Regions from separate parts of the Homo sapiens genome. Here region 1 is linked to region 2. Evidence: fine-mapped expression QTL. Tissue or cell type: whole blood. Region 2 holds a variant in brackets; the other region holds the start of a gene. All regions are shown on one strand. Distances are from middle to middle. Region 1 holds the start of LHFPL2 (LHFPL tetraspan subfamily member 2). Region 2 overlaps LHFPL2 (LHFPL tetraspan subfamily member 2).

What was found. PIP is the estimated chance that this variant, and not a neighbour inherited with it, causes the effect.
Region 1: it holds the start of LHFPL2, and the variant in region 2 is fine-mapped to the expression of LHFPL2 in whole blood (INTERVAL, PIP 0.92).

What each region holds. Positions count from the first base shown.
Region 1 is chr5:78,647,532-78,650,432 of GRCh38, reverse strand. It overlaps LHFPL2 (LHFPL tetraspan subfamily member 2), which reads left to right and starts at 1,661. Exons shown (of 5, transcript NM_005779.3): 1 at 1,661-1,934. RefSeq lists silencers at 1,123-2,062, 2,353-2,412.
Region 2 is chr5:78,510,834-78,513,734 of GRCh38, reverse strand. All of the region lies in intron 3 of LHFPL2 (LHFPL tetraspan subfamily member 2), which reads left to right. Among named protein-coding and RNA genes, the nearest start is that of LHFPL2, 140 kb to the left of the region's middle. The variant T/G (reference allele first, on the strand shown) is at 1,359.

The DNA of each region.
Region 1 (2,901 bases), 140 kb before region 2:
TCATTTTCTAACCCTACTTTCCCCACAAGCCCTGTTATTTCTAGTGTGTGATTTCACAAAATGGAAAGAGCACATATATCCTTTTAGAGCAAAAATGTGGTACTGCAAACTTCATTTTCAATGAAGATAAGTGGAATTTGGCTGCGGGAGAAGATGAAAGAGAGCATTCCAGCTCTGGGAAGAGCATCAGCAACTCTCGTGTAGATACAGGCATGGATCTTTCTCGGGGGGAGGGGAGGATCCCCATCTAAAGAGAGTCCCAGGCTCTGAGAAGTGCGTATGGAGGTGCAGTTGTTGTATGGTTTTGAACTGATGATTTTTAAGGAATTCAGAATGTTCTCTGGCAAAGTGCCTCAGAAAGCTTCTAGAACAGGAAGTGGCCTGCCTGAGGGGTATTCTAGAGCCATTCACCTGTAGGCCTGCGCATATGGATGCAAGTGTAGAGAGGACCCCAGCAGAGAACCGGTAGGAGGCCGCTCACGCCATCCAGTGCCAGATAGCGAGAACCAGAAAGGCGGCAGTGGGCTTGAAAGGACATGGCACCTGGAAAGGCATTAAAAATGAAGAACTAATGGGACTGGCTACCGGGAGTGGAGGAGCGAGGCCCAAAATTGACTGCTAATCTGAATCTGGGCGACTGGTGGATAGAGGTGTCCCAGACAAGGGGCTGAGAAACTGGGAATGGGAGCATTTGACTGGGCGGGGGGCGGGGGGGTGGCGAGGGGTGGAATACAAGATGGGTTTGCCTAGAGAGGTGCCACGTCCTAACAGTTCAATCACAAACAATACTGGCACCTGAATTCATGGCCATTTAACTCTGTTCTTTGCTCCCAGCCCTGGGGGCGGAGCTGGGGAGTTAAAGCATCCCCTCTCTGGACAAGAATGCCTTTTCAGGCTGTTCCTAAAGCGCCTCCGAAAATCATCCTGAAACCGTAATTTTGAGGGCAGGGAAGCTGAGGACACCAAGCATTCTATTTAGGAATAATCTTTGTGACTGTTGGAATTGAGTTTCCACACCTAGATATTCAGAGGGCACGGGAACTTATGTCCGGAGCCTCCTCTCCGGAAGAGGGCGGCGAGGATGGGGGTCCAGGCGCCCCTTGGCCCCTTTCCCGTTTCGGACTCTCCGGGGTCACCAGACGGCCGTTCTTTCCGCTTGGGCCCGGGTCTGGGGGAACTGCTCCTAGCGCCCCGGGGCCCGCTCTCCGCCGGAGCAGCCTGGCCTCTCTCCCCCGGCTCCGTCAGCGCCGCTCTCCGCCTCCGGCCCTCCCGGCAGGGCTGCTCGAAGCTGCTCCGGGAGCTTCCCCGGTGCGGCCCGGAGGAACCTCGCAGGACCCCGGGAGACGCCGCCGCCGCTGCCCGGCGGGCTCAGGGACCGGTTCCCAGGCCCCCACACCCCCTCTCGGGGATCCCCTGTCGCCGACTCCCTCCCGGACCCGCAGGACACTCCCCTCCGGAGGCCGGGCCTGGTCCGCCCGCCCGCCGCCCCCGTCCCGCCCCGCGCGCCGCGCCGGGAGCCCCGAGCCCGACCCCTCCCCCGGACGCCCGGCCCGCTCGCGGGACGGAGGCGGCGATGGTGACTGGGCAGCGGCGCGGGGCCGGGGCCTGGGCAGGGCGGCTCGGCCGCCTCTTTCTCTCGCTGCCCCCGCCCCTCCTCCTCCTCCCTCTCCCCGAGTGCTAGCCCGGGCGGCCGCCGAGCTTGGCGCTCTCTCGCCTCGCTGCCTCCTCCCCCGCGCCGCGGACCCTCTCCCCTCCCTTGCGTTGCCCCCCTCTCCCGCCGCCTCCTCCCGCTCTCCTCTCGCTCTCCTCCCGCCTCCTTCTTCCAGGCGCGGCCAGCGGGGGCAAGAGCGAGGTGGCTGCGAGGAGGCGTCACTGAAAGCCCTGACTTGGGGAAGGCTGCGGGCTCGGAGCCGGAGACGCCGAGCTGGGGCCGGGTGAGTGGCAGGCGTCGGGCCCGCGCGCGCTGCGGGAGGGGAGAGCCGGTGGGCCCGGCCAGGTGGGCGCCCCGCGCGGGCGCATGGGGAGCCGTTGCGGCCGGCCGAGCCCTGGCTGCTTGAGCCGCGGCTGGCGCGGGAACTTCGCTTCGGCGCCCTGGGAGACCGCGCCGAGCGGTCGGAGGTGCTGCGGGATGGGCGTTGGGTGCTGGGAATGGGAAGGGAACAGCTGCTTCTCAGCGCCGCCGGCGGCCGCAGAAGTGGAAAAAAGTTGTGCCGGGAACAGCGTCTCCTCGGGAAGCCGGCGCGAGCCCTGCTCTCTGGGCGTCGCTGGCGGGCTTCGGACGGCGGCGCGTGGGTCCCAGGCGCAGCTGGGCGCCGGGTTCCAGCGCGCCTGGCACCGCTCCCTGGGGGCCGCCCCGTGGTCGCCCCTGCTGTCCCTGGTCCGTGGCGTGTGGGTCACTCTGGCCACAGACGTCAGCTGCTTCTCAAATCTGGACTGCATTTTTGTGGGCAGCTCAGTGATTTGGGGTGCGGGCTGGAAGAGGTGGGCGTGGAGTGGGGAAGACCGCATCTGGGATGGGCGGCTTGAGCCCACGGGCTGGGCAAAGGACTGGGGAGACTCTGCGTGTGTTTCTGGATGTTTTTAGGCACACAGTTTTTTTTTTTCTTTTCCCTTCCATTCAGCGGCCCAGTGTTCTTCGAACTTAGAAAAGCAAAGGATTTTCTTCAATCCCGTTCGACTTTTCTGTTATTTCAGGATGGTCATGAGTTCCATGAAAGTCCATGTGCTTGTTTCAATGGGAGCAACACCAGAGTAAAGACAAAGTCCTATCCCCACCCCCGTCCTCGCCTCCACCCGGGCCATTTCCTGTATGTCCCATTTTCTCTGTTGTGATTGTGCGAGTGTGTTTGTGCATGTAGGTTACCATCGGTGGGTGACCTACGTGGAAAGGAGAACTCTTTG
Region 2 (2,901 bases):
AAAGAGGTTCCCCTTATAAAACCACCAGATCTTGTGAGACTTATTCACTACCATGAGAACAGTATGGGGGATCCGCCCCCATGATTCAATTATCTTCCACCGGGCCCTTCCCATAACACGTGAGAATTATGGGAGCTACAATTCAAGATGAGATTTGGGTGCGGACACAGCTAAACCATATCACCACCCCCAGGAAGCCTCGATTTTAGTCAGCCTTGCGTATCACCACTGTTCCTCTGATAGTAGCAGTTAGCAAACTTACTAGGGAGAACAGAGCATCTTATCCCCCTATTGAAAACAGAAGAATGAAGCCCTTATCCCAGCCAATCTTGTATGGGTGTGAGAATTTGGTGCAGTGAATGAGGAAATGTTTTAGCATAAAGGAGAGGGAACTATATTATTTTTACTTAAGCATGTGGGTCCTTAAGTAATCCTGCCTTCAAATTGTTCTCAGGCATTTTGCTAAGCCCAGATGTCCCATCTTCTCCTGTCCTGAACTTTTACAGCCTTTTTCTTCAGAAGCTGCAAACTAATTGCATTCCTTACTCTGAGTAGAGCTTGCTGGCCAGGGCAGTGGACACTCGAGTAGTCATTAAGATACAAGTCACCCGAGAGGTTGTAGGAGCCCTGCAGTTCTGCAAGAGGACAAATATGAATGTTCTCATTGAAAAATTACATTCAGGCAGGGGTGGTTGCACACGCCTATAATCCTAGCACTTTGGGAGGCCAAGGTGGGTGATCACCTGAGGTCATGAGTTTGAGACCAGCCTGGCCAACATGCTGAAACCCCATCTCTACTAAAAATACAAAAATTTAGCCAGGCATGGTCGTGTGTGCTTGTAATCCCAGCTGCTCTGGATGCTGAGGCAGGAGAGGGGAGGCAGAGAGGTTGCAGTGAGCCGAGATCATGCCACTGCACTCCAGCCTGGGTGACACAGTGAGACCCCATCTAAAAAAAAAAAAAAAAGAAAAGAAAAATTACATTTAACAGAGAAAAGGGATGGGAAAGAGATTGTGCATAACAGTAAAATGGTTTTCTAATCAAATGGGAAGGCTTTATAGCTCTCAACAGGCTGGGCTTGCCACCTGTGGGCCCAAAGTATTTGTGAGCCTGATGGGTACGTGCAGGCTCTCAGGGCCTCCTGGGAGTCCTTGTGGCTCATTTTCTTGTTCTCTTTTAGAATGATCATTTTCATTACAAACAATCTCCTCTAAAGCCCTTAGTAACTTTTTTCTCAAAAGGCTTTCTGTTTGGTACTATCTGGAGGAGGGAGCTGAGAATGAGTGAGTCGGAGTAGGATATACCTTCTGGCTGAATGCTAATTTATCTCCACCAGTTGGATATAAATTATCCAGCT[T/G]GTGGAGATAAATTAGCATTCAGCCAGAAGGTATATCCAATATAAAAACACCAGCTGAGTTAGGTAGTGGGGAAACAGGAAGACCAGGACTCTGCCCTTGAAGGCTGCAAGGTAAGTTTAGACATGAATGACTTCGTCCATCTCTAAGTAGCCTGTGCTTAATGTTTTCTGTGTGCAGTGGCCAGGTTTCTGTAATCTGCTGGGCACCTCAGTTGGATCAATAGTTGTCTGAACGGTGTCATCTATGTTACAGGAAAAGCTTCGGAGGGCAGGGAGTTGATATTTGTTGAGCACTTACTCTGCCAGGCACTGTGCTGGGTGCTTCAGTAGGTTCTTGTTCATTCCTTGCAACAATCTGGTGAGGTAGGCTACCCTTACCGGCTCAGACGAGGGAGCTCTGAGAAGTTAGGCATCCATATGGTCAGTGCTGGAGCTGGCTTTGGAACCCATACCTGATGGACTCCCTTCCCTTACCCAGTGCTTGGCACAGCGCTGTGACACACGCACACACACCCTGACAATTAAGTGCATATGTTCCTAGTAGTGCACTAGCTGTGTCCCCAAAATAGCATCTTGTATAGCAACTACCATGATATGAGGATTTTAAAATACATCATGTTTCAAGGGATGGGTAGAGTCACATGCTCACTAGGAAGTCAGCCAGCAGGCAGACAGCTGGTGCAGGGTGTAGAAACGGGCATTTTAAGCTTTGACACTGGGCTTCCTTATTTCTCCGCTTCTCTTCCTCTTCGATAACTCCCTGCCTCACCCCACTCCCAACATGCCAGGGGGCTCTTTGCAGTTCTCATGGAGTTGATTTGACCTCGGTTAATGAGATCTAATCATTCAGAGCAGGGCCATGTGCCCAGATGTGAGCTATGTGATTGTTCCTGGCCTTGGAATGGGGCAGAAAATGGGGCTGCAAACCAGCCCTGCTGGCCCCCATTTCAGGGTCCAGACTCCTCTGAAGAAGGCTTGAGCCACTGGAGCAATGTCTTCTGGTAATGAAGTCATTCCTCCGTGGAGACAGAATGAGGCCTCTGTGAAATGAGAAACAATGGGCATGTTGAGTTCCCGACCTGGGGTGAATCGAAGCTTAGGCAGAGGCACATGGGATGAATTGGGACAATTCAAGGGATGCATTCTTCATAGACAAGGTTCTGTTGTCAACAAGTCCACTCAGTTGTAATGATGCTTAGTTAACGGTCATTAATGTCTTTTAAAAATAATTTCCCCAAGTAAGTCATGAACTCTTAAGGTTTTTTTTTTTTCCCCTCTGAGTTTTAATTAGTGTAAATTATTTTGTCTAAAAATCACCCTGTGAAAAATGGATAAAGTATAGGTATGGGAGCAATGTTTTGTTTATTCTTTTACATGTGATTCTTTCCTATTTACCTATGAAGCAAACACACTTATGTCTCTGCTAGTAATTTAATTTCGAGGAAATAAAAGCGGGGTGTTGCTACTCTCTACTGTTAAGCAAAAGCGCTTGGTCCAAGTTTCTCAAAACTTAGCTCACCTAGTACCAAAACAGCAGGCAAAA